4 linked regions of the Homo sapiens genome follow. The main gene of each other region encodes a partner of the protein of the gene in region 3 in a complex. Each region holds a gene or a part of one and is shown on either strand. Other genes may lie near its edges. A codon is read from its position in the direction of its gene.

Region 1 (7,253 bases), about 65 Mb from region 3:
ATTCATTTTCATTCATCTAATTTCTATGTGTTATCTACTAATAAGAATAGTATGAAGAATAATTAATAATTTTTGAGTATTTACTATGATCCTGTAGAAAGTACCTTAAACATATGGTTTCACTGAATCCCGACATCAGCCCTTTTAGATAAGTATTCTCATCTGTAAAAGTAGACATTTACAGATGTCTGTCAAATTGGAGAAGTTAAAGAACTTACCTGAGGTCTCAGCCGGTAAGAGGTAAACCACTATGTGAGCCCAACAGTCTAACTCTATAATCCATGCCCTTGACCACTATTCTAGACTGCCAATTCCTCCTTCAAAACATAATTAGTTTTTGTTTTTTTTTCTTGTTTTGAAATAGGGTTTCACTCTGTCATCCAGGCTGGGGTGCAGTGGTGAAATCATGGCTCACTGCAGTCTCAAACTCCTGGGCTCAAGGGATCCTCCCACCTCAGCCTCCTGAGTAGATGAGCCTACAGGTGTGCCACAGCCACTGGCTAATTTTTTAAAATTTGTTTTAGAGACAGGGTCTTGTTTTGTTGCCCAGGCTCCTCTCAAACTCCTGGCCTCAAGCAATCTTCCCATCTTGGCCTCCCAAAGTGCTGGCATTACAGGCGTGAGCCAACATGCCTGGTCAGCTTTTTTGTTTTTTTAAAGACTGGGGTCTTGCTTTGTTGCCCAGGCTGGCCTCCAACTCCCAAGCTCATGTGATCCTCCTGCCTCAGCCTCCTGAGTAGCATGGACTACAGGTACGCGCCATCACACCCAGCTCGAAACATGATTAACCTTTGATTATTTCAACAATGAATGTGGTATGCTGTTCCTAGTGACAGTTTCCCTTCCAGCTACATTACTTAGGCCAGAGATAAGGCAACAGAAATAAGATCTAAACTCTCAAATCAGGAATGGAATCTGTCACTGGAGGTGCAGTTGGACTGAGCCTTGATTCCATCTCCAGGCAAGATGCTCAGTATCAGACTGCACGGCAGCGGTTCTACCCTTGCTGGTTAATTTATAGAGTTCAACTGTCTATGTTAATGAAACCCTTTGTGGGTATGGATAATCAAGAACAGACTGTATCTTGTATGGTTTTGACTTATAAGAGAATTTTTTATAGTTCCATTACTTAAAATATATAAAATGAGTTAAAAAATGAAAGAAACAGTCCTCTTTTTTCCAAGCAGTGGCCACAACGTCAATATTCCTGGTTACCCTACATTAGAGTATGCTTCCAAAGCTGTGTGCATAACATGGAATTCTTTAGAGTAGCCATTACTGCATTTTCCCAAGGGAAATTTGCAAGAATTGGATACATCAGAATTTAATCAGAAACTAAAGCCATGTCTTTTCCCAGAACATGCCCCAGACGTGGTTTTTAATTTTTTGTTGTTGTTATTTTGGTTTTTTAACGAATATGGTTTTTAACTGACCTATAAGACAGTCCATTTAAATATATAAATTTTTAATAGCCTTCCAGGGGCCATTTCCTAAATCCCACTTCAATCTTTTCTGCCGTGAATTGTTAGTGTATACCGAGTGGAAAGAAATGGGTGAGGGTGAAAGGATTTGGTGATAGACAAGAATGGGAGAGAAAATAGTGAAAAACAGAAACAAGTCCCATTCCCTCTGCAATGAACTTGTCTCAAAGTAGAACCAGTGCTGACAATAATGACAATTACACTCTTTCAATCATAGCTATTTAACCATAAAGTAGAAAAATCAAGAAAAGTAAGATGTTGTAATACAATAAATACTTCCCTTCAAGATCTAGTGCATTCGTATGGACTTGCTTAAATTTAGATTCCACTTAATAAGGGAAAACGAAAATTTCCATTTGCGCACAGAACCACTAATTTTGTGCCAAAAACAAAGGCAAAAAGAGGGGACACCAAGATCCTTGCTGGTTCAAAGTCAAAAGGCAAAATGGAAGAAATAATGAGACAAGCCGAAGCCGACTAACACGCAAGAAGAGTTCATCAAACAGGAAAAAAAAAAGTTTAGAAACTTTCAAGCACTTCTGGTAAATGTCTCATGAAAGTTTTGCCCATGTTTCAGTTCCTCTAAAGAGTTACGCTCCATCAATCACTACAGATGGCTTTGAGTCCCCAAGGCCTCGATGCATTATTGTTCTAAGGAAACGCCGCAAAGCTCCTGAGCCGAGTATCCTGTGGGCAATGGACACTCAGGACCCTGCGCTTCTTGTCCAAGGCTTTCTGGTCGGCCTCTCCCACAAATGGACTTCAGATGCAGTGCACGCCCGGAAGAAAATACTTCCCAACTGTTGCATCGCGTGAACCAAAACAGAAAGTCAGACGACCACCGGAGTACTCCAATTCTCCGGTGAAAAACTCTCCCACAGACACCATTTTTGTATTTTTATTTTTCATTTTTTGCGTCTGATGGACGCTCGCAACGACCCTCTGCCTCCGAGCCTCACAAGAGGGAACTGCACCTGTCACTTCGCTCAGGACCCTAGCCCCACCCGCCCGACACCTGTCAAGTTGAAGCCGAGACCCCTCGCCCAAGAACCCAGAATCCTGTCACCATTCTGCAGACGCTCCGCCGTGGCGGGGGGCAGGGAGGGCGCCTCCTCCCGCCGGGACCCGGCCCCTGGCGAGGACGGATCCCCGCCGAGCCGCCTTGGCGCCCGCCCTACGCACACCCGGGGCGCCCTTCCCGCGTGAGGCGACGGCGGCTCTGCTCGCTCACCTGACGAGAGGCAGGTCCTCCGGGCCGCTGTCCTGCTCTGGGTCCTCCTCAGGAGGGGGCGGCGGCGGCGGTGCCGGGGGTTCCGCGGCGGCAGCGGCGGCGGTGGCGGCCGTTTTTCGGGGGGTTTTGGGCGGCATGACGCCTTTCCGCGGCGGGAGCCAGCGAGCTGTGGAGGAGCGCCGGGGAGGACGACGCGCGCGCACGTCGGGGCACGCCCCGTCCTCTCCCGACTCCCGTTACAAAAATAATTTCAACGTCCCCTGAGAAAAACCGGACGCGCCCTCCCCCGCCCGGCAACTGAGCGCCGCGTCCAACCGCGGGAAAACGTCACTTCCGCCCGCGGCGTCACGTCCGCGAGGCTCCCGGGCCCGCCGGCGTCTGTGGGGAACTGGGGCGCTGGTCGGTGCGCGGGCTGGGACGCTAAGTCATGAGGAATTAAACTGGGAAACCTGGCGTGGGTCCAGGCGCCTTCCAGGAGGCATCCGGCGCGGCCCGGACGTGCTTCTACCCAGAACCACCCCCTCCAGGCCGGGGTGCACTTAACGGGGCTATACAAAGAGTCTGGTGGGTGACTGTGGGCCTCATCCCTATCCCGGGGTCTGATAGGGAAGACTCTCGGGCCCCGCAGGGAATATCTGGCTAGTGCACCCTCGGCGGGAGCGCCACTCTCCCTCCTTGGGCGGCGCCCCCCACCTCTCATCCCGCCCAATCCGTTTTGCAAAGTCGGCCAAAACAAAAACAAACTTGGAGCGCTGATAGGTGCGGAACTTTACCAGTCACTTAGAAGATAGAAAATGTTAGACACTTGCTGGCCTTTTGGGATCACTGGTTAGGGAAAGGAAGGGAGGGAGCTGTGGGGAATGAACGGATAGTAGTGTAATAAAGGATTGTAGTGGTGTAAGAACGGGAAGCACCGTGGAAACGTCTGAGGAAGATTTTCAGGGGAGCAGTAGCTGCTGAATAGAAGTCTGTCAGGCAGGCCTGACATTTACTATGTACCAGGAACTGTGCTGGCCACCTTACATAATTGTCTTATTTAATCCCCAGAAACAGCCTTTTTTTTCTTTTTCTTTCTTTCTTTTCTTTTTTTTTTTTTTTTTTTACTTTAAGTTCCGGGATACAAGTGCAGAACGTGTAGGTTTGTTACATAGGCATACGTATGCCATGGAGGTTTGCTGCACCTATCAACCCGTCATCTAGGTTTTAAGCCTTGCATGCATTAGCTAAGAAACAACGCTTTCCAATGGGTAGTATTAGCTAGTCTACGTTGCAGATGAGGAAACAGGCTCAGAGGAGTTAATTTGTCCAATACCAGGGCCGATGGGTAGCAGAGAATTTGAACTCAATTCTATTTGATTCCACTTGTCCATTATATTATGTTTGATGAAGAAAACAGTGACAGAGAAGGAGCATGTGCAAAGGCACAAAGACATCAGAAAAGAGCTTGCTGGGACTACCACCATCAAACATTGGCTTAAAGCTGTTATCACTTCTGTGTCTCGGTATTTGTACCAATAGATTATCTAGTTTGAATACATTTTTTTTTCTCTTTGGCAGACACTGTTATTGCCCATCTGAACTCGTCAACTGAGAAGGAAAGAGATGGTTTATGCTGTGAATAAAATACAGTTGTGCTGTGATGTAAATCCCCTCATCCTGGAGCAGCTGAGCAAGGTCTAAGGCAGGAAGAACCTTCAAGCAGGTCATGGCTGTAAGCCTCCTGAGTTTATCCCAGCAAGTTGTATAAGGGATTATCTTTTTATCTGCATATTATGACATATGTGAGGATGTGTAAAGGTTTGGCAAGCACTGGCCTACTCAACAGCCAGTCCTACCTAACTTCAGAAATCTTTCTTGTGGGCAAATGTCAGGAGATAGGGCCCAGGCCCAGGTCCAGCTACAAAGAATGAATACAATTAAAGTGCTACTTCCATTCACCTCACCCCAGATTAGTTTAGGCAAGAGCTCAGGATGCAGTTTTGACATTTGAAAGATAAGGAGTAGTCTGCTGGGAGCCTGATAAATTGAAACAGGGATGGCACAGTTCTAAATATTATTAAATAATAGTAATAATATTAAGTATTACTGAGGATGTGACACTTCTGATTGCTGCAGCCATTGTAACGTGAGGCAAGCCAACCTACAGAGAAGGTAGAAATGCTGATATTGGTGCAGGAGGAATTTCAAAAGAATCTGGATCCTCAGTGTTATAAATGAGCCTCTGATTTGGCCAGCCCTGGAGCTGACCTAAGCTGAGCTGAGGTTTTCACTTGTTTGCAACAGAAAGCATCATGACTGATAATGTTTCTCCTGTGCTTATCTTCAGGATAGAGACCAAATCTTGGGTATCATCATTGCCTTAGTACCTAGCACAGTGTTACACACACAGTAAATGCTTGCTTACTAAAAGTAGGGATGGCAGGAAAGTGAAGGAAAGTTCTAGGAACTGAAGTAAACTCTCTTCATACGTAGATATCACTTGCTTTATTTAAAACCAGTTTATCAACATCTAGATTACATTTATGTAATCTAGATTTATTTATTACCATATTACAATTATGATAAAGAGATTTCTCAATTTACAAAAGAATATATGTCTTGACCATGGATTAATTTAACTATGTTCACTAGTATGTAAAATATATTTTCCTGCAGCCATAAAAAGGAATGAGATCATGTCCTTTGCAGGAACATGGATGGAGCCAGAAGCCTTTATCCTCAGCAAACTAACGCAGGAACAGAAAACCAAACACTGCATGTTCTCACTTATAAGTGGGAGCTAAACAATGAGAACACATGGACATGAAGAGGGGAACAACACACACTGGGGGATTACTTGAGGGTGTAGGGTGAGAGGACAGAAGATCAAAAAACTACCTATCAGGTACTACACTTGTTACCTGGGTGGTGAAAAAATCTGTACACACCAAACCCCAGAGACACACAGTTTACCTATATAACAAACTTGCACATGTATCCCTAAACCTAAAATAATAGTTTGAAAAAAGTGTGGTGTATATATCATAATATATACACATAAATAGATACACACACACACACACACACACACACACACACACACATACACACATACATACCATAAAATAGACCCAGGAAGGGGAACAACACACACTGGGGCCTGTAGCGGGGAAGGGTGGGGAGAGGGAGAGCATCAGGAGAGCTAATGGATGCTGGGCTTAATACCATGGTGATGGGTTGATCTGTGCAGCACACCACCATAGCACACATTTACCTGTGTAACAAACCTGCACATCCTACACATATACCTGGGAGCTTAAAAGTTGAAGGAAAAAATAATAAAATATATTTTCATCCACACAACTCAGAAGCAATTGAGTTCACCATCAAAATCTTTAGTTTTCTGTTGCATTACCAAAGAAGTATTAGAATTTCGGCAGAGTCTAGACCAGGTACGGTGGCTCACGCCTGTAATCCCAGCAGTTTGGGAGGCCAAGGCGGGTGGATCACCTGAGGTCAGGAGTTTGAGACCAGGCTGGCAAACATGGTGAAACCACATCTCTACCAAAAATACGAAATTAGCTGAGTGTGGTGGCAGGTGCCTGTAATCCCAGCTACTCTGGAGGCTGAGGCAGGAGAATCACTTGAACCCAGGAGGCAGAGGTTGCAGTGAGCTGAGATCATGCCACTGCACTCCAGCCTAGGCGACAAGAGCAAGACCCCATCTCAAAAAATATATATATATATATATATATATATATATATATATATTTCAGCAGAGTCTTAAAAAAATTCCCCCTGAACTTCTTGAAATTCATGGATCTCTTCCAACCTGCTTGGTAATTTTAAGAAGATTGCTGTAAGACTCCTACAAAAAATATATGTATTTCTTAGATTTTCTATCTAGAGAGGGAACTCTCTTCAGTTTGAGACTCCTTCAGTGATATTAAAATTTGGGGAAGGGTCTAAAAAGTCTTCATCGTTCTAAAAAGCCTTCCTTCAAAGTTTTTATACCCCCAAGCTACCACACTATTTCCATTTCTTAACCATCTAGCTTCTTAGAAGGGTAGTCCCCATTGGTTCTCTCTGCTTCCCCAATTTCTCAGCCTGCTGGCCCCTGGCTTTCTTTCACTACCACCAAGAGCCCCCTTCTGAAATCACTCTTTCAAATGTCACTGATGATAGTTGTCAATCCCATGGCTTCTTTTGGTCCTCAACCTACTTGACCTTTCTTGCAGTCAATATAGTTAACCACTTCCTCTTAAAAATTCCCTAGTCTTCCACAAATCTATGGTCTCCTTGTTCTCCTCCCTTGTTACTTCACAAATTCCTTCATTAGTTCTCTTTCTGCCGGTCCCTTCAATGCAAGTGCTCCCTAGAGTAATGCTACTCAAAGTGTAGTTCTTGGACCAGTGACAGTCTGCGAACTGTTTGTGTTTAGTCCACAAGGAAATAAGTACAGAAATTAAAAGGATAAGTGCTTAGCAGTGTTTATATCAATTTGACATTTCAGGAATATCCGAGTGCATGATCATTGGACATTGCTTGTTAAACAGTTCAGG
Region 2 (6,172 bases), on a different chromosome or scaffold from region 3:
TCTCTTTGCCTGCCACCATCCATGTAAGATATGACTTGCTCCTCCTTGCCTTTTGCCATGGTTGTGAGGCCTCCCAGCCACGTGGAACTGTAAGTCCATTAAACCTCTTTTTCTTCCCAGTCTCGGTTGGATATTTCTTTATCAGCAGTATGAAAATGGACTAATATAGTATCTAAGACTTAAAAAAAAATTTAAGGTGAAATCAAGACTTAAAAAAAAATTTAAGGTGAAATCTACATAACACAAAATTAACCATTTTTAAATGTCCAATACAGTGGCATTTAGTAAATTCACAATGTTATGCAACTACACCACCTCTATCAAGTTCCAAAATAGTTTCATCACTCCCCCCCCAAAAAACTCTGTATCCATTAAGCAGTTATTTTTCATTTTCCCCCTAGACCCTGGAAACCACAGGAACATTAACTTTTAAGTTATTCTAAGGAATTTTAGAGACATAGATATTAAAACAGACAGATTTCAGATGGCTGTGCAACTGCTTCCAGTCATACAGAAAAGAGTTTTTTTTCAATAATCTCAATTCCAATTTTTATTAGCCATTCTATGTACATTGATACCAAGTCCTGAAAACTGATAAAAACATGTCCAGAATTTCTTTTTTTCCTTTTCTGAGAAAGGGTCTTGCCCTCTCACCTAGGATGGAGTGTAGTGGTGCAATCACAGCTCACTGCAGCCTCAGAATCTCCCAGTCTCAAGTGATCCTCTCATGTCAGTCTCCTGAGTAGCTGGGACTACAGGCACATGCCATCACACCCAACTAATTTTTTTATTTTTTGTAGAGATGAGGGCTATGTTGCCCAGGTTAGTCTTGAACTCCTGGACTGAAGCAATCCTCCTGCCTCAGCCTCCCAAAGTGTTGGGATTATAGGCATGAGCCACAGGACCTGGCCCATGGTTTCTTATACAGTCAATGTACAAATGCTCATTTATATTTTGCACAATAATGAAGATAAAAATAACAATTATAGCAACATACAAATATGTACAAAGATTCCAGACAGACTTTGTTTTTTGGCTTATAACAATGTGTAGATACTACACAAAGAATGAGGATGTAATTTTCATTTACAAGCAAAATGTGACCAAAATCCCTTTTCTTCTTAAAATTGAAAAATGAAATTCTTGAGAATACTAATTAGTGACGGCCAAATCTTAGACTATTTTAAATTAGCCATGGTTAAACATAGGTGAGTTAAACATTGTGCCTTTCCAAAATTAAGGTTTGCAGTTAGAAACATAAACATTTGATAAAACTTCTCAAAATTAATTATGAGTGGCTTATTCATGTCCTTTGGATTCCAGACACACACTAGAAAAAGTAAACGTTAAAGAGGTGATATTTTGGAAAGCATCCCTAGTACTGAAAAGCATCCCTAGCACTGAAAAAAGCATCCCTAGTACTGAAAAGCATCCCTAACACTGAAAAAAGCATCCCTAGTACTGAAAAACATCTTCAGGAGTACTCAGTACTCCCTAGTACATCCCTAGTACTGAAAAAAGCATCCCTAATACTGAAAAGCATCCCTAGTACTAAAAAACATCTTCAGGAGTACCCAGTGGTCAAACACTAGCAGGAAACTCATGATGCACTAACAATACTGAGAACAAAGTGTGGGAAGTAATAAGCAGCTATTTTACTGATGTATTAAATATATTAGAATTATGAGGCATGAGATGATATTTATGTGATTTTTAAAAGGTTTAAAATATTCTTAGGGACTCAATTAGATATTGAGAATGACTGATAACTATGATCTCAAAAACAGTATATCACACATAATCATGGTGTTACCTTACTAATAGGAATTTAGTTTTTAATAACTAACTGAATTTTATTTTACTGGCTTCAGAAGCAGCTGCCTATTTTGAGAACTACATGAGTTAATACGATCATATATAATTAAGTTAATGTCACAGAAACCAAAATGATAATAGTTTACAAAAGAAGAAAGTGCCCCATTTATTGGGTTGTGACATCAGGCTGAGATGGCTTAGGGCTGGAAAGCAAGGATGAGTGTAGCACTGGGGCTCAGGTACAAATCTGTTTATAAAGCTCAAGGAGAGAAAAGGCACGAGAAGGGGTGAGACAACTCTGAATGGCGGTGGTACCTGGATGTGGAATTACCACAGTGGGCCAGAGACAGGATGGTATATAACCCTCTGGCCAGGTACTATGGGAACCAACCCCTTCCTTCAATATTAAATTAAGAATACAAATATCTCAAAGCATGCTATCAAAAGTAGATTATTTATCCTCATATTACAGAACACAGAAGGAGACATTTATTTTTAAAAGAGAGCTAAAAAGTTATGGGGTTTCTCCTTATTTCATCTTGAAAACTCAAGGAGCAAACATTAAAAAAAATTCCCTATTTATATATATATATATATTTTTTGAGATGGAGTTTTACTCTTGTTGCCCAGGCTGGAGTGCAGTGGCGCAACCTTGGCTCACCACAACCTCCGCTTCCTGGGTTCAAGCAATTCTGCCTCAGCCTCCCAAGTAGCTGGGATTACAGGCATGCGCCACCACACCCGGCTAATTTTGTATTTTTAGTAGAGATGGGGTTTCTCCATGTTGGTCAGGCTGGTCTCGAACTCCTGACCTCCGGTGATCTGCCCGCCTTGGCCTCCCAAAGTCCTGGGATTACAGGCGTGAGCCACAGCGCCTGGCCGGACTATTAGTATTTTTAAAAGGCACTTAAAATATTCCTTTCCAATCCAACTCAAAATACATCTCTGTCAACTACATTTTGGATAAATATTTTAAAAAGCACATAATTTTTGTGCAATTTTTTCTTATAACCCAGTGATATTTATCATCTATAGGGCTAAAAGGTTTGAAGGACAGAGCTCCAACTTTCTGCAGAACAATCTGAAAGTGCTTTTATCATAGAAACAAGAACAACATTAATGATTTGCTCTTTCACTGACAACATCCTGTAGTCGTTTCAGTAAAACGTCATCATTTTCTTGACAGACGCGTTTGGCAGGGGATTCTGCATCACTATCGATGGCTATTACTCGCTTCTTGGTTCTCTGCTCACCTTGCCTTATCATGTTGTTGATATCTTTCAAACTCTGTGCAGAAATAGAGAACGTGTGTGAGTAAAAGAGGGAGAGGGGAAATGGCAGCAAACAACCAAGCTAATTGTTTTTTCCTGTGCTCTATCCTCTATCCAAATCTTAACACTGGGATAAGGACTCTTTTTAAAACTTAGAACAACCTAATAAGGGATGGCTTGAACTAATCTTTTCAGGTGGTTTAAAAATTAGATTTAAGGCCAGGTGTGGTGGCCTGTAATACCAGCACTTTGGGAGGCCAAGATGGTTCAATCACTTGAGCCCAGGAGTTTCAGACCAGCCTGGGCAACATGGCAAACCTGGTCTCTACAAAAAATACAAAAATTAGCCAGGTGTGGTGGCTTGTGCCTGTAGTCTCAGCTACTCGGGAGGTTAAGGAGCATCACCTGAGCCTGGGGAGGTTGAAGCTGCAGTGAGCAGTGATCATGCCTGGGAAACAGAGTGAGACCTTGTCTCAAAAACCAAACCAAGAATAGAAAAATAAGCTTCCCGTCTCCCTCCTCTCCCTCTCCCTCCTCTCCCTCCCTCCTCTCCCTCTCCCTCCTCTCCCTCTCCCTCTCCCCACGGTCTCCCTCTCCCTCTCTTTCCACGGTCTCCCCCTGATGCCGAGCCAAAGCTGGACTGTACTGCTGCCATCTCGGCTCACTGCAACCTCCCTGCCTGATTCTCCTGCCTCAGCCTGCCGAGTGCCTGCGATTGCAGGCACGCGCCGCCACGCCTGACTGGTTTTCGTATTTTTTTGGTGGAGATGGGGTTTCGCTGTGTTGGCCGGGCCGGTCTCCAGCTCCTAACCGCGAGTGATCCGCCAGCCTCGGCCTCCCGAGGTGCCGGGATGGCAGACGGAGTCGCGTTTACTCAGTGCTCAATGGTGCCCAGGCTGGAGTGCAGTGGCGTGATCTCGGCTCGCTACAACCTCCACTTCCCAGCTGCCTGCCTTGGCCCCGCAAAGTGCCGAGATTGCAGACTCTGCCCGGCCGCCACCCCGTCTGGGAAGTGAGGAGCGTCTCTGCCTGGCCGCCCATCGTCTGGGATGTGAGGAGCCTCTCTGCCTGGCTGCCCAGTCTGGAAAGTGAGGAGTGTCTCTGCCCGGCCGCCATCCCATCTAGGAAGTGAGGAGCGTCTCTGCCAGGCCGCCCATCTTCTGCAATGTGGGGAGCGCCTCTGCCCTGCTGCCCCGTCTGGGATGTGAGGAGCGTCTCTGCCCGGCCGCCCCGTCTGAGAAGTGAGGAGACCCTCTGCCTGGCAACCGCCCCGTCTGAGAAGTGAGGAGCCCCTCCGCCCAGCAGCCACACCCTCTGAGAAGTGAGGAGCCCCTCCGCCCGGCAGCCACTCCGTCTGGGAAGTGAGGAGCGTCTTCGCCTGGCAGCCACCCCGTCTGGGAGGGAGGTGGGGGTCAGCCCCCCACCCGGCCAGCCGCCCCGTCCAGAAGGGAGGTGGGGGGGTTAGCCCCCCGCCCGGCCAGCCGCCCCATCCAGGAGGGAGGTGGGGGGGTCATCCCTCTGCCCAGCCAGCTGCCCGTCCGGGAGGGAGGTGGGGGGGGTCAGCCCCCCCGCCCGGCCAGCCGCCCCGTCCGGGAGGTGAGGGGCGCCTCTGCCCGGCCGCCCCTACTGGGAAGTGAGGAGCCCCTCTGCCCGGCCAGCCGCCCCGTCCAGGAAGGATGTGGGGGGGTCAGCCCCGGGCCCGGCCAGCCGCCACATCCGGGAGGTGAGGGGCGCCTCTGCCCGGCCGCCCCTACTGGGAAGAGAGGAGCCCCTCTGCCCGGCCAGCCGCCCCGTCCGGGAGGGAGGCGGGGAGGTCAGCCCCCCGCCCGGCCAGCCGCCCCGTCCAGGAGGGAGGCGGGGGGGTCAGCCCCCCGCCCGGCCAGCCGCCCCGTCCGGGAGGTGAGGGGCGCCTCTGCCTGGCCGCCCCTACTGGGACGTGAGGAGCCCCTCTGCCCGGCCAGCCGCCCCGTCCAGGAGGGAGGTGGGGGGGTCAGCCCCCCGCCCGGCCAGCCGCCCCATCCGGGAGGTGAGGGGCGCCTCTGCCCGGCCGCCCCTACTGGGAAGAGAGGAGCCCCTCTGCCTGGCCAGCCGCCCCATCCGGGAGGGAGGTGGGGGGGGTCAGCCCCCCACCCGGCCAGCCGCCCCATCCGGGAGGGAGGCGGGGAGGTCAGCCCCCCGCCTGGCCAGTCGCCCTGTCCCGGAGGGAGGCGGGGGGGTCAGCCCCCCGCCCGGCCAGCCGCCCCGTCCGGGAGGTGAGGGGCGCCTCTGCCCGGCCGCCCCTGCCCGGCCGCCCCTACTGGGAAGTGAGGAGCCCCTCTGCCCGGCCACCACCCCGTCTGGGAGGTGTACTCAACAGCTCATTGAGAACCGGCCATGATGACAATGGCGGTTTTGTGGAATAGAAAGGGGGGAAAGGTGGGGAAAAGATTGAGAAATCGGATGGTTGCCATGTCTGTGTAGAAAGAGGTAGACATGGGAGACTTTTCATTTTGTTCTGTACTAAGAAAAATTCTTCTGCCTTGGGATCCTGTTGATCTGTGACCTTACCCCCAACCCTGTGCTCTCTGAAACATGTGCTATGTCCACTCAGGGTTGAATGGATTAAGGGTGGTGCAAGATGTGCTTTGTTAAACAGATGCTTGAAGGCAGCATGCTCGTTAAGAGTCATCACCACTCCCTAATCTCAAGTACCCAGGGACACAAACACTGCGGAAGGCTGCAGGGTCCTCTGCCTAGGAAAACCAGAGACCTTTGTTCACTTATCTGCTGACCTTCCCTCCACTATTGTCCTGTGACCCTGCCAAATCCCCCTCTGCGAGAAACACCCAAGAATGATCAATAAAAAAGAAAAAAAATGGAAAAAAAAAAAAAAAGAAAAATAAGCTTCCCATTATGCAAGAGTCCTATGGCCTTTGTGCTTTCCTACCCTGTGAACTAAGAGTCTAAATCTGTGAAAAGATGTCCATGAGGTAGAGTTGAATTAAAATAGCAGGTTGCAGAACAATAAAAAAAAAAAAAAAAAAAAAAAACAAACCAAACCAATCCAAACCAAAACAACTGAATTTACTGTATAACAGTAGCTCTCG
Region 3 (7,023 bases):
CTGACTTACAACGAGGAACTTACAAGGAACATCCCGATAAACCCGCATGAGCTGAAAATACCCTAAGTCGAAATGCACGTCATCCACCTCTCCTACCACACATCACAGCTTAGCCAGCCTACCTTACACGTGCTCAGATCACGCATGTTAGCCCAGTCGGGCAGAAGCATCTCACACAAAGCCCACTCTAGTCAAGTGTGGGTATCCCAGGAGACCCACTGAATACCACACTCAAAATGAAAAATAGGACGGTCGTATGGGCAGTGGAAGCAGTTTCCACTGAATGCATGTTGCTTTTGGACCATCTTAAAGTCAAAATCACAGGTCAAACCCACTGTAAGTTGGGAAGAAGAGAAAGCCAGAGGCAGGTACACACCAGGTGCTCAATGGTGCTCACCAACAACCTTTCCTGGAAGACAGGACTCAGCACCCAGGGGCACCCTGAGAACGAGCCACCAGTGCACTGGGAATGCGTTGTTTACGGAGGCCAGGTCTTACAGGAAGCTCTCCTTACTCTCCTGCTTTAACTGCTCCCTGCGGAAGGCCCCGCGGCATCCGGCCCATGCAGTGCTGGGCAAGGGTGCCTGCACCTTCCTCTGCGTGCCCTGCGTGGCAGCTCCCCTCACTGTGTCTCCGCAGCACTGTCCCTGCTCCTCACCCATCACCTGCTGCTCACCAGCCCTGTGAGCTGAGTCAGCATCACAGGGGCGGCCTGGAGCCAGCCCTCCCAGGAACGAGACAGAGGCTTTGCTCCCGGACCTGGCACAGGTGTGTGCGTTTCCTTCCTGGTGCACAGGAAGCCGGTGAACTCGGGCCGGCCGCCTGTGCCACAGGACGCCTTCCAGTCTCCCATTCAACAGACATGGAGCAGGCCCCCGGCCTCACTTCCCTACACCAGGAGCCACACTCAACAGCCAGAGGAGGCACGGCAACACACTGAAGCCCTGGAGGGCGTGTGTGGGCAGAAGCGCAGGGAAAACAGGAACCAAGGAGGTGCCAAAGGGTGGATGGGACAGTGCCGGGAAGGATAGTTCAGAGCTGGGCCCCTAGGGAAAAAAAGGAGGTATTGGAAGCAGTGGCCACGCTAGCTGGAGTGGTGGGCAGAGACCCTGGAAGGGAGAAGTGGTCACAGCACAATGAGGGGTACTGCCCAAAGCTGGGAGGCTGTGGGTCCCACTCCAACCAGGGCTTTCCAGGAGATCCAGGAGCCTCTGGGAGCAGGAGGCAGGCAGGGGCTGAAAGGCGCCAGGGACACCCACCCCTTAGATTTAACAGCGGCTTCTCTGGAGGATGGGCTCCGCCCTCACGACTCCCTCACCCGCCTCTCGCTGGGGAGCAGGGGAGGTGACCCAGGCCCCACAGGTCATAAGGGGTCTCCCTTCCTACTGTGCTCACGGCTGGAATCCAAGCTGCGCTTCAGAGAAAGTAAATGACATGGCTTCAGACACAGTCTACATGGCTCCAGACACAGTCTTTACACGGCTCCAGACACAGTCTTTACACGGCTTCAGACACAGTCTCTACACGGCTCCAGACAGTCTTTACACGGCTCCAGACAGTCTTTACACGGCTTCAGACACAGTCTTTACACGGCTTCAGACACAGTCTTTACACGGCTCCAGACATAGTCTTTACACAGCTTCAGACACAGTCTTTACACGGCTCCAGACAGTCTTTACACGGCTTCAGACACAGTCTTTCGACTCTAAAGCTTTTGCAGCTTCCACGCCAGCAGTCGTTAGAAAACAGCTCCAGGTGGAAGCATCCCACAGTAGAGGACCTGCCGGAGGTCCACCTTGCCCGAGACCAACCCTCCTCCCCCAGGAGCTCCCCTCCTCACTGGCTGCACAGTGAGCCTTGGTGTTTAAAGCAGCGATCCCCCACCTTTTTGGTATCAGGGACCAGTTTTGTGGAAGACAGTTTTTCCACAGACCGGAGTCGGGGGTAGTTTCGGGAAGAAACTGTCCCACCTCAGATCATCAGGCATTCGATTCTCATACGGAGTGCCACCTAGATCCTGCATGTGCCGTTCACAGTGGGGTTTGCGCTCCTGAGAACCTAATGCTGGGATCTGACAGGAGGCAGGGCTCAGGCGGCTGTGCGGCCAGCTTCCTAACAGGCCCAGGGGTTGGGGACTCCTGATTTAAGGCATCCCTTCTGCCCTAAGTGCACACTTTTTGCACCTTAATTTCACACACTCTAAAAACTGAGATTACGATGTCTCCGTGTAGTGTGACCCCACTCAGACACAGAATCCTAGAGATGGACCAAGGTTAACCGCGGTGTCCAGAGAGACAGGGCCAGTGGCGCAGCTGCAAAGGAAAGGCCACTGCGACCACAGATGCCGACTTCTGGGACACAGGCCTGGGTGGGGGGCTGCTTCTCCCCAGGGGCTCACACAGGCCGCTGCTCCTGCCGGCTGAGCACATATGTCCTCTGTCCCGCACACGTTCCTGTGCGCGTGCTGAGCTCTGCAGCACCACAGGCTTCACAAGCATCCGCACCTCAAAAGACCCTGACCTTGACAAGCCCTGCGCCTGCTGACTGGTGCAGGTCAGAGACCTAAGGACCTCCCCACCGCTTTCACTCACATGCCCGGACTGAGCCCCACCCCTCGTGTCAGAATGAGCCAGTCCAGTTTTTTGTAAACCTCTGGTATATAAAAAGGTTTAAGAAACATTTGCCCTTTGTCAGCTTTAATTCCCATCACTGGGATTTTGCAAAGCACAAAACAGCAATGACAAACTCCACCCGAACAGCTGAATTTAAATCAGGAACTTGACTTTCAGTGACGAAGTTTAAAGCACATCAATAAGATAATCTTCTCATTCGTTTCCCCCCAGTGTATTCACACCGGCAGTAAAGACGAAAGTGGTGCTACAATTATTCACCCAGACAAACTCTGCTATGACACACAGCACCTATAAAATCAAACTTAGAATTCCTAGTCAACTTATAAGCAAACCTATAATCTAATTATCAAGCAAAACAAAAACTGAATTTTTAGCTTTTATCAAAATGGCATTTACTGAAAAGCCGTGATCTGCTGTGCAACGTGGTTGAAAAGCCGTATGACGTGGTAGGGCTTCCACAAACCGCTACTTTCAATGGCCACAAAACTTCTGCAGAGCAAGTTTTTTGTCACCTTCCACAGGCAGGAAACGGGGCCACAAAAGCTGCCTGGGATCTGGAACCGCTCAATCAGGACAGCTGTGTGGGAGCACACACGGGGAGGGGGGCTGCGGGGAAGCGGGGCGCAGGGAAGTGGGACGCGGGGAAGGGAGCGCGGGGAAGGCAATCCTGCTCAGATCCTCAAGGCTGTGACCCACAAGCCACTCTCTCTTAAAACTCATATCCTAACATCTGTTAAAGAATCCAGAGAATTTCAAGCATATTTAAATAAACGGAAATAGCAGGAATGCATATAAAATAAAGACTAAAGTGCAAAAATGACCAAAATATCCCTGGTATGTGGTCATGTTCTCTGAAGAAAACATGATTAGACCAAAGGGAGATGCCCTAGACAACAAAAAACAGCTCAGTACAGAGAGCTCTCCACAGGGCCAGGGACACCTGAGGATGCCTGGGGATCCATGAGAGACACCTGGGGACACCTGAGAGACACCTGAGGACACGTGAGAGACACCTGAGGACACGTGAGAGACACCTGAGAAACACCTGAGGACACGTGAGAGACACCTGAGGACATGTGAGAGACACCTGAGGACGCGTGAGAGACACCTGAGGACACGTGAGAGACACCTGAGGACACGTGAGAGACACCTGAGGACACGTGAGAGACGCCTGAGGACACGTGAGAGACGCCTGAGAAACACCTGAGGACACGTGAGAGACACCTGAGGACATGTGAGAGACACCTGAGGACGCGTGAGAGACACCTGAGGACGCGTGAGAGACACCTGAGGACGCGTGAGACACCTGAGGACGCGTGAGACACCTGAGGACACGTGAGAGACGCCTGAGGACACGTGAGAGACGCCTGAGGACACGTGAGAGACGCCTGAGGACACGTGAGAGACGCCTGAAGACATGTGAGAGACGCCTGAGAGACACCTGAGGACACGTGAGAGACGCCTGAGGACACGTGAGAGACGCCTGAGGACACGTGAGAGACGCCTGAGGACACGTGAGAGACGCCTGAAGACACGTGAGAGACACCTGAGAAACACCTGAGGACACGTGAGAGACACCTGAGGACACGTGAGAGACACCTGAGAAACACCTGAGGACACGTGAGAGACACCTGAGAACACGTGAGAGACACCTGAGAAACACCTGAGGACACGTGAGAGACACCTGAGGACATGTGAGAGACACCTGAGGACACGTGAGAGACACCTGAGGACACGTGAGACGCCTGAGGACACGTGAGAGACGCCTGAGGACACGTGAGAGACGCCTGAGGACACGTGAGAGACGCCTGAGAAACACGTGAGGACACGTGAGAGACACCTGAGGACACGTGAGAGACACCTGAGGACATGTGAGAGATACCCTGAGAGACACCTGGGGACATGTGAGAGACACCTGAGAAACAGCTGAGGACAAGTGAGAGACACCTGAGGACACGTGAGAGACACCTGAGAGACACCTGAGGACACGTGAGAGACACCTGAGAGACACCTGAGGACACGTGAGAGACACCTGAGGACACGTGAGAGACACCTGAGGACACGTGAGAGACACCTGAGGACACGTGAGAGACACCTGAGAAACACCTGAGGACACGTGAGAGACACCTGAGGACACGTGAGAGACACCTGAGGACATGTGAGAGATACCCTGAGAGACACCTGGGGACATGTGAGAGACACCTGAGAAACACCTGAGGACAAGTGAGAGACACCGGAGGACACGTGAGAGACACCTGAGAAACACCTGAGGACACGTGAGAGACACCTGAGAAACACCTGAGGACACGTGAGAGACACCTGAGAAACACCTGAGGACATGTGAGAGATACCCTGAGAGACACCTGAGGACATGTGAGAGATATCCTGAGAGACACCTGAGAGACACGTGAGGACATGTGAGAGATACCCTGAGAGACACCTGAGGACATGTGAGAGATACCCTGAGAGACACCTGAGGACATGTGAGAGACACCCTGAGAGACACCTGAAGACATGTGAGAGATACCCTGAGACACACCTGAGGACATGTGAGAGATACCCTGAGAGACACCTGAGGACACGTGAGAGATACCCTGAGAGACACCTGAGGACACGTGAGAGACACCCTGAGAGACACCTGAGGACACCTGAGAGACACCCTGAGAGACACGTGGGGACATGTGAGAGATACCTGAGGACACCTGAGAGACACGTGAGGACACCTGGGGATGCCTGAGAGATACTTGGGGACACCTGGGGACACGTGAGGATGCCTGGGAGACACCTGAGGACACCCGAGAGACACGTGAGGACACCTGGGTATGCCTGAGAGACACCTGGTGACAGTGAACGGACAGGTTCTCATCCCACCCGGAGGTGTTCAATCCTTTTAAGAGGACTGGGCCACAGCACAGACGGAGCAGGGTGAGGGGGTGGAGTGGGCCAGGAGGCCGGGGTGCAAGAGGTGCTGCATCACCAAAGCCCAGGGTTGGCAGGAACAGGGCTGGGGCAGCTGCCCAGGCGGGGCCACAGCATCATCTCAGGACCAGGAAGGAGCCCTCAGGCACCATAAACAAGTCCCTGAGGAAGGACTGGAAGCCCGGCCTAGCCTTGGGATGGCTATGTCCCTCACCACCAGCTCCAGTCACAGCCAAACCTGCCCACCAAGTGCCTGGGGCCCCATTTCTGGTGAGGTCAGGATTCTGTGTGGGCTCCCTGTCTCCAGTAGGCTGCCACCGGCAAGGACGCAGAGGGCGGACACGAGACAGGAAACAGCATTATGAGAAGCAGCATCAGTTGGCCAGCATCAGCCTGGGGAGGGGGGATGCGCCACTTCCCAATGCCCACCTTCCCCTCTCCTGTGCGTGGCCAAGGGAGCAGCATCTGCCCTGTCACTGCCCCGGGGCAAACGCACAGCCACGGCCAGGGCCCTATCCCTCTCTGGCTTCCCAGCCTGATGTCTCCAGGAGGGCCACAGCCAACGCTCGGCCACATCACGTAAGAAGCCCCTGTTAGATGAAGAGCTTCGAGCTCTGACACTAAAAGGAAGCTGCCTCTGGTTGGGGCCGCGGCCCCACCCACCACCCTCCAGTTACTGGAAGGATGGCATGGGCTGGGGCACACAGGAGTGCTGTGGGCGCCATCACCTCTCCCACAACAACACGTGGGCAGCTGCAGAGGGCTATGGAAAATCTAGCACTGGCCACGGGCTCCCTGATGAGGGAAAGGCCCCATGCTGCAACTGGAGCCCAAATCCAGGCACACCTGGGAACATCCCCAACCACACGGCTCATCCGATCCCGACCTCACACCGAGATCCCGGCTGTCCGCTCCTGCGGGAGGCTTACCACTTGCTGGGCAATGTTGACATTGGACTGTCCAAAGGTTTTTGGCAAGAGCTGCTTCCCGAGCGGGTTGACGGTGGAGGGGTGAACGGCCACGAGGGACACCACGCCTGCAACACAAGGACACCAGGTCAAGGGCGAGACTCCTTTTCTAAGTTAAGGCTACAAGCGACCATTCTAAATGCAAGACGGTGCTTGCAATTAGAGATGCTTAGCTTTCCCCACGTGTACTGTCTCAAATCCAGGGCTCAAGAGCAACACCTCCATGAAGCTTGATTCCCAATGTAAACCCGTAAGGGGAGGGCCGCAGGGCCGCGCTGACGCCACCCAGGTGACCCAGGCAGATCATCCACTGCTCCAGCCCCTCGGCGATGTCTGCTATGGAACGTGCTGGTGGGGACCACGGCCTGGAAAAGTCTGTGATTCTATGACAATTATGGAACAGAATTTTAAAACTAGAATTTTTATCGCAACATTTCTCTATAAGGCTGCAAAACTAGTTTGGAAATCTGATAATCCACTTTTCCTTAGGAAGGAGAACCACA
Region 4 (7,139 bases), on a different chromosome or scaffold from region 3:
CGCTTGAACCCAGGAGGTAGAGGTTGCGGTGAGCCGAGATGGCGCCACTGTACTCCAACCTAGGTGACAGAGCGAGACTTCATCTCAAAAAAAAAAAAAAAAAAAAGAGTTAAGAGTTAAGTTTTCAGCTGGGCATGGTGACTCACACCTGTAATCCCAGCACTTTGAGAGGCTGAGACAGTCAGATTGTCTGAACTCAGGAGTTCAAGACCAGCCTGGGCAACATGGCAAGACCCTCTCTCTACTAAAAATACAAAAATTGGCTGGGCATGGTGGTACACGCCTGTAATCCCAGCTACTCGGGAGGCTGAGGCACAGAATAGCTTGAACTTGGGAGGCAGAGGTTGCAGTGAGCCGCAATCACGCCACTGCACTCCAGCCTGGGTAACAGAATGAGACCCTGTCTCCAAAAAAAAAATAAATAAATAAATAAAAAAGTTAAGTTTTCTACATTAAACATGTATTATAGTTATAATACTTGAGTTTGTGGAAGTGGACAGGCAGGGCCAAGAGGAATGGCTGAATTGCAGAGCCTTGTATACAGAATGCCTGCTGGTATAGAAGCTAAGCCTGTAGCTTATTTCAAGGACTGTGCCAGACAAATGCCAGTGCAGAGAGGCCAAAAGCCAAACCTGTGGACTTTCTGGACTTCAGTTCCAGAATGGTGCCAGCCTCCTGGCCCTTAAGTACACTGGGGGCCAGGGCTCCTTGTCTCTGGGCCTAGTGCCTCCTGGGCATTCACTAACTCAACAACTGTTGAATGAATGGAATGCCCAGGCCAATGAGCCTGCCCCTGACAGGTGGAGTGGAGGGCATTTTTCTTTGCCCCTGTCCCTCCCTTTGATCCTAGAACCCATAATCCTGTTCAGATCTTTGAGGACAAGACCCTCAGGTTGTTAGATTTCCGCAGACCTGAGCCTTCTATAATGCTTGTCACACAGCTGAATGGAAGATGCTTGCCCAGGTCCCAAGTGGTACCCACAGGAACAGGCCCCTGGAGTACAGGAGACAGGCCACCTGGCCCACCCCTGGTACAACCCCCTCCCACCCACTCATTAAGAGGGAGGGCCCCTAAAAGCCCTTCTTGCCCTTTCTTCAACCTGTATCAGCATCCCCAGAAAGCAAGGCATCCCAGAGGTCAACCTCAGAGGAAACGCAGACTGCTCTCCCCACTCAAGAGCAGAATGACATGGGAAGATTCTAACATCTCTAGGCCTCAGCTTCCCAATCTGTAAAAAGGGACTGCTGCTGATGGGGTTAAATGAGTTAATTAAGTAAAGCGCTTGGCACAGAGCCTGGCACACAAGACATCCTCAAAACAATGGTGGCTGCTATTGTTATTATTATTAGCATTGTGGTGATTCCGGAAGGCAGCACTGGGCATGGGGCCAAGGGGGTTGGGGGAGCCTCCTCAGGATGCCTCAGGGACCAGCTGCCACCCACACCCCCATCAGCAGTTAGGCAGCTTCTACCTCCTTGTCCTGAGTCCTGCCTCACCCCTCCCACTTGCTCCAAGTTCCCTGCTGAGACCCCATCCTGCCTGGCCAGACCCCGCCTGCACACCAGAGCCCCACCTTCACCCATAGGCTGCGCCAGTCAAACTGGTCTCCACACCCTGCCCTGTGCCCCACAGTTCCCAGCTCCAGGCTTCTACGCCTCCAATCCCTTCTCCCACTGGAATTCAGCCGCCTCTTCTGGGCCCTCCAGTCTGAATTCGTCTTGAGCTCAGCGATCAGGGAGGGCTTTATTAAAGGATCTCCCTGAGACATTTTCTCTCCTGGCACTGGGGGCCTCCTCTCCAGCTCCCAGAGGCCCAGCCCACCTAGTCCTTCTACAGAGACTCAGGGGTCGGCCTGCCTGATTAATGAGGTTCCATGGCAACCAGGGCCTGGGAGGGTGGAGGGTGGCAGATGGAAGGACAGGCAGAGGGAGGGGATCAGCAGCTGGTCCAGCTGCCCCGCCCCTGCAGAGAAGGCCTCCCAGCCAGGAGGGCTGTCCCCAGAGGCCTGGCCGGCCAGGCCTGCACCTGGCAGTCAGCATCGAGGCAGGAAGGAGGGTCTCCTCAATGGCTCACCAACGGTTAGGCCCCAGGACTTTCCTCCGCCCCGCCTTCACTTCCCCTAGCAGCTGTGCTCACTACCGAGATGCAAATTCTGAGCTGAAGCCAGCAGGCCTCAGTTCAAATCCCAGCCCCACCACCTGCAGCCGTGTGACCAGGGGCAAGTCACTTTCCCTCTCTGGGCCTCAGTTCCTCCTCCGTCAGATGGGCACAGTGACAACACAGCTCACAGCGGGGTTGTGAGTTTTAGCTGGCTTGAAGTCGCCCAAAGGCCTGGCATGCAGTAAACGCCAGTTGAATACACGTGGGCTATTATTATCACTGAGTCCGACGCTGGGGAGGCTCCGGTGAGGAAGCTGAGGCGCAGAGCACAGAGCAGCAAACAGGGACCGGCCCGAGGTCACCCCGCACCCCAGGGCGGGGCCCGGAGGCCCAACCCCGGCTCTGCACCGCCCAGCCTGGGCGCCTCAGTCAACCCCTCCCCCGCCCCCTGCCGCCTCCAGGCCAAACACGGCGCCCTCCCGGGTCTGCGCGGGGGGCACAGGCGGCGCTGTCGGCGCGGCGTCCCTGGGGTCCGTACCGGCGGGCGGCCGAGCGCGGGCCGCGGCGCACTGGGTGTGGGCCGGGGCGCCTGCGGTGTGGCGAAGAGCAGCAGGTCAGGGTCGCAGGGGCCGGCGGCGGGCGCCGCGGGGCCGGTGGGAGCCGGCGGGGCGCTGGCGTCCTGCGCGGCGGAGATGATGACGATCTGCGAGGAGTCGAGCAGCCGCAGCGCGCCGGCCCCGAGCAGGGCCTCCAGCGCCGGCGCGCATGGGCCGCCCGCAGGGGCCCCGGCCAAGGCCATGACGCTCACGGCCCGCGCGGCCCGGGTGACAGGCGGCGGCGGCGGCGCGGGCCCATGGCGGCAGGCCTCGGCGAGGGCTCGATCCCGCTCCGCCCCCGGCCGCCGCTGCCTGCAAAGTCCCGGCCACTTTTACGCGCCAAATCCTTTTTGCCGCGAAAGAGCCACGAGCCGCCGAGCGCCGCCACAATTGGCTGCCCCGGCCGTGACGGGAACAACGGCGGCGGTTCCTATTGGCTTTAACGCGCCGGACCCGGCGGCGAGGGGCGGGATGGGGCGGCGGCGCGGGGCGGTACGGCCAATGGCGGGGCGGGGCGCGCGCAGGCTTTGTCCGGATGGTACCAGGCGCGGTGTGACTCCCCGCCCCCAGCCCGGGCGTCCCCTGCTGGAGGCGTGGGGACACCGGAACATAGGCCCCGCCCCGCCCCGACGCTCCCGCATCCCACTGACCTTTCTATAGTGCAGGTTCAGAACAGAGCCTCTCTTCTGCACGTGACCCTCAACCTGTAGCCCCCAACAGCCTCAGCTTAGATTTCCAGAGACTGTCCCCTCTTCTTTTCAGGATCATCAGTTCCACAGCCCAGCCATCAGCCACCTCTTCCATCCTCAACTTGCCTCACCCATGACATTATCCTAATCCTGCACCCAGCCCTATCCCGCTCACCCAGAGCCCAAGCTGAAGAGCGGTGCCTGGAAATGGCGAGGGGGACGTCGGGCTTTCCTGCAAGTCCCATTTTAGCCAAAATCTCCAACAGCCAACGTATAGCATCTGCTTGAACTCATTCATTCCCTCACTCATTCAACAAACGTTTGGAGAGCTTGCTCTGTGCCCCATCCTCAATTCGTGGCCCTAAGGAGCTCACAGTCCAGTAGACAGGGGAACAGAAAGGTAACAGACGTTTACAATACGATGAAGTGGCGTCTGGGCGCGGTGGCTCACCACCGGAATCCCTGTAATCAGCTGGCGGGGTGGATCGCATGAGCCCAGGAGTTCGAGACCAGCCTGATCAACATGGTGAAGACCCATCTCTACAAAAAATACAAAAATTAGCCAGGCATGGTGGCGTGTGCCCGTAGTCCCAGCTACTTGGGAGGCTGAGGTGGGAGGATTGCTTGAGCCCGAGAAGTCGAGGCTGCAGTGAGCTATGATCATGCCACTGCACACCAGCCTGGGCGACAGAGCGAGATCCTGTCTCTAAAACAAAAAAAGAAAACACATCACTTCTAGGGAGCCCTCCCAAGGATTTACTCACTTCCTCTATTGCCCACTGCTGCCTCTGCTCCAATGCTGACCACACACACTCCTTTTCTCCATCTGCCTCCCCTGCCAATCTAGGAGCTCAGTAGCGACTCCTCCCAACACTGGTCTGGCCCAGAGCAGGCGCTGAGAAAGGTTATGAAAGAAACAGAGGCTAAGCCAGAGGCTGCCTAGACTGTGACAAGGAGACCACGGTTCTGCAAGGGTGGTCCTTAGGCCACTGGCTTCAGAACCACGTGGTCACTTGCTAATTTTGGGCCCACCCTGGCCCTGCCAATTTAAAATCTCTAGGTGCCCAAGAATCTGCATTTTAACAATGCCATGTCCCCTTTCCAGGTGATATTTGTTATTCTTTTTCTTTTTTTTTTTTTGACACTTAGGGAATTAGAAAAGCCAGTATCTTATTTTTTTTTTCCTATTTATTTTATATAGACGAGGTCTCACTATGTTGCCCAGGGTAGTCTCAAACCCCTGGGCTCAAGAGATCCTCCCGCCTCAGCCTCCAGCATAGCTGGTACTCCAGGTGACTGCCACCTCACCAAGCTTCCAGGTTATTTTTATGCATACTCACATTTGAAAGCAAACTGGTGTACCAGCATAATCAAAATGAGTGGTGCAGCCTCAAATCACAGCTCCTGAGGATGCTTCTCACCCTTAGTTTCAAATGGGCACACAGACCTTGCCCTGGCCCCTTCCAGGGTTGCCAGGAGAATGAAAAGCATAAGGAATTGGAAAGTGTTTTACAAACTATGAGGTGGTTTAGGAAATCAGGAGTTGTTTTCCCCTCCAATGAGTAGTTTCTGAAATTACTCATTGCAAATCCTAGAATGTATCATAGCTAGAAGGGACCACAGAGACCACATAAGCCTCTTGCTGTATGGATAGGAAAACTGAGGCCCTTTCAGGAGAAAGTAACTGTGAAGCCAACCAGTGACCAAATTGGGCCTACACTGCATTCCCAGCCCTGAGGTCTGCCTGTCCCCCTTCCCCATCCCCTCTCCATAAAGAAGCTGAGGGGTAGGTCCCATTCTAAACAACCAACGCAGGTGCTGGCAGAGAGCAAGAGAAACCAGCACATTCCCATTCCAGATGGAAAGAGTGTCCTTTCCCTGCACCTTCCCACAGGGTCCCAGTAACACTAACATTCATTTGTGTGAAGCCCTCTCAAACCCAAGTCATTCAACAAACACTTATTAAGCACCTATTATATACCAAGCACTGTGCTGGTTTAACTGTGGTGGCTGGCAAAGAGAGATGTCTATTATTATTGCTCCATTTTATGATGAGGAAATTTGAGGCCAAAAGGGCCTGAGTTTACCAAGTAGATGAAAAGGTTATTTTTCAGGCTTGGTGAGGCTGAGGTTGGGGGTTTTCCAAAGTCCTGCCCGCCCCAGAGTATTCAAGTACACATCCAGGTAGAAGTAGGCGCCCTCCGTCCCACAATCCTTCAGGTCCTGCTGAAGCAGAAAGGAGTGAAGACCAGCATTCCTAGCATGAAACTGAGGAAGAGATAAGGGCCTTCTGTACCTATTAATACCTACTTGAAAGCAGAAAAGCCTGATAGATGAGGCCCCTTGGCCCTAAGCCTGGCAGCTCCTGATAAGGCTGTTCTCAATGTCAACAGTTTTCAAAAAACAGTTTCCAAAAAATCCACAGTCACTGGGCAGCCACTTCCATTGATGATCTCCTTTCAACCCCATAATCCCGTAAGTAAGCTTGTTTATCCACATGGTGCAGGAAGGAAGAGGCTCAGAGAGGGGCATTCATAGCTCAAGGTCACACAGCAGAACTGAGATGAGAACTTCACTTGTCCCACTGCAAAACCCAGGACCTGCCCTTGCCACCCTCTGTAAATACCCCAAAAGCCAGGCTCAGGGCTGTCAAGATTATAAAGTGTAGTTTCTAAAGGGTATTATGGTGGATAGTGGCTTGGTTCATAGGTGCTTATTTCCATCACCACCTTCACCAACCAAACTAGAGGAGTTCGAGGGGATGCAATCTGTTGGGCCCACAATCCTGTGCCTGGAGACCTCTTTCCCTTGGTTCTTTCCAAGAAGCAGAGTGGTGTAGAGGTGATAGCATGGGCTTCTAAATCAGGTGGGTGTAATCAGAAATCTTGGTCAACATGACCTTGGACAAGTCAATTCACTTCATTCAATCCACAGATATTTACTGAGCACCTATTATGTGTCAGACATTGTGCTAGGTGCTGGGGACACAGTTATAAGTAAAACAGACCCCTGGAACTCACAGTCCAGTGGGAAAGTTAGGAATTATTTCTCTGTCACTGCACAGTATGCTTGTTAAGAAGTTTGACAAGTGACACAAATAATTTAAACCTATTTATTCCACAAACAGCACCTCCCCTAAGCATACATTCTTAGCTTACAAAAAAACAAAAATTCACCAAACATGAATATCCAGTCATGATAAGGAATGCATAATTGGGAGAAAAGATTCTGTGATGACTTAATTTTATGAAGGGCACAGAGATGTCCATTGTTGAGTTGTGGCAGAGGGAGGTGGGGAGTTTTGCATCTGCAACAATCCCTCAATGCTACCCTGACTGACAGTTTACTGTCCCTGGAGATATTCTGTCACTGTGCCAGTTCTGGCTATATCTGAACAGACCTCTTGCCCATCCAAAAGGCAGTCTAACATAGAAACAAGCCTTTGGAGTCGGGTGGCCCCCAACCCTGTGGCTTCCCGCCTCTGTGATCTTGGGGAAGTGATTCACCCTCTTGAAGAGCTTTGCTTGCCTCATCTGCAGAACAACAGATAACAGCTTCTTTACACGATGCGTGTCAAAGTTTAAGAAAACAAAACAAGCAGAGTTTGCAAACTGGCCCCCAGATATAACTCAATTTGCCCATAGAAGATTTTTCTTGAATTATGAATTTGTTTTAAGATTTGAGGAAATTGGAAAATACCATATAAAAATTAACATGTCTGGCTTTTCTTTCTCTTTTCTTTTTTTTTTTTGA

The links.
Region 1: the proteins of TFDP1 (region 3) and RB1 are in contact, whole or in part, in a crystal structure (PDB 2AZE), measured with the Homo sapiens proteins. Residues at the interface, in NP_009042.1 of Homo sapiens: Gln222, Glu225, Leu226, Gln229, Ile262, Val271, Asp273, Asp288, Asn289, Thr290, Phe291, Glu292, Ile293, His294, Asp295, Glu298, Arg302; in NP_000312.2 of Homo sapiens: Ile835, Ser838, Phe839, Thr841, Ser842, Phe845, Gln846, Ile848, Asn849, Val852, Cys853, Asn854, Ser855, Val858, Leu859, Lys860, Arg861.
Region 2: the proteins of TFDP1 (region 3) and RBL1 are in contact, whole or in part, in a crystal structure (PDB 5TUV), measured with the Homo sapiens proteins. Residues at the interface, in NP_009042.1 of Homo sapiens: Pro260, Phe261, Ile262, Thr290, Phe291, Glu292, Ile293, His294, Asp295, Ile297, Glu298; in NP_002886.2 of Homo sapiens: Tyr1004, Phe1006, Asn1007, Ser1011, Leu1014 (codon at 3,099), Ile1017 (codon at 3,090), Asn1018 (codon at 3,087), Ile1021 (codon at 3,078).
Region 4: the proteins of TFDP1 (region 3) and E2F1 are in contact, whole or in part, in a crystal structure (PDB 2AZE), measured with the Homo sapiens proteins. Residues at the interface, in NP_009042.1 of Homo sapiens: Glu201, Cys202, Leu205, Glu206, Glu208, Arg209, Arg212, Leu213, Arg215, Ile216, Lys219, Gln220, Gln222, Leu223, Leu226, Ile227, Gln229, Gln230, Phe233, Lys234, Leu236, Val237, Arg239, Asn240, Arg241, Glu244, Pro251, Ser255, Val256, Ile257; in NP_005216.1 of Homo sapiens: Arg202, Leu203, Leu206, Thr207, Asp209, Leu210, Leu213, Gln214, Ser216, Glu217, Leu220, Asp221, Leu223, Met224, Ile226, Cys227, Thr228, Gln230, Leu231, Leu234, Asp239, Ser240, Gln241, Arg242, Leu243, Ala244, Tyr245, Val246, Thr247, Cys248.

The regions. Positions count from the first base shown.
Region 1 is NC_000013.11:48,299,509-48,306,761, reverse strand, and holds the start of RB1 (retinoblastoma-associated protein), read right to left. Parts: upstream 3,012-7,253; 5' UTR 2,850-3,011; coding exon 2,713-2,849; intron 1-2,712. UniProt on the Homo sapiens protein: Tumor suppressor that is a key regulator of the G1/S transition of the cell cycle. The hypophosphorylated form binds transcription regulators of the E2F family, preventing transcription of E2F-responsive genes.
Region 2 is NC_000020.11:36,995,828-37,001,999, forward strand, and holds the end of RBL1 (retinoblastoma-like protein 1), read right to left. Parts: intron 3,103-6,172; coding exon 2,932-3,102; 3' UTR 522-2,931; downstream 1-521. UniProt on the Homo sapiens protein: Key regulator of entry into cell division. Directly involved in heterochromatin formation by maintaining overall chromatin structure and, in particular, that of constitutive heterochromatin by stabilizing histone methylation.
Region 3 is NC_000013.11:113,622,745-113,629,767, reverse strand, and holds part of TFDP1 (transcription factor Dp-1), read right to left. Parts: intron 6,589-7,023; coding exon 6,482-6,588; intron 6,476-6,481; exon of another isoform or gene 5,007-6,475; coding exon of another isoform or gene 4,761-5,006; intron 4,265-4,760; coding exon of another isoform or gene 3,539-4,264; exon of another isoform or gene 1-3,538. Other genes in the region: uncharacterized protein LOC124903219, read right to left, coding at 3,539-4,264, 4,761-5,006. UniProt on the Homo sapiens protein: Can stimulate E2F-dependent transcription.
Region 4 is NC_000020.11:33,683,365-33,690,503, forward strand, and holds the start of E2F1 (transcription factor E2F1), read right to left. Parts: upstream 3,022-7,139; 5' UTR 2,901-3,021; coding exon 2,640-2,900; intron 1-2,639. UniProt on the Homo sapiens protein: Transcription activator that binds DNA cooperatively with DP proteins through the E2 recognition site, 5'-TTTC[CG]CGC-3' found in the promoter region of a number of genes whose products are involved in cell cycle regulation or in DNA replication.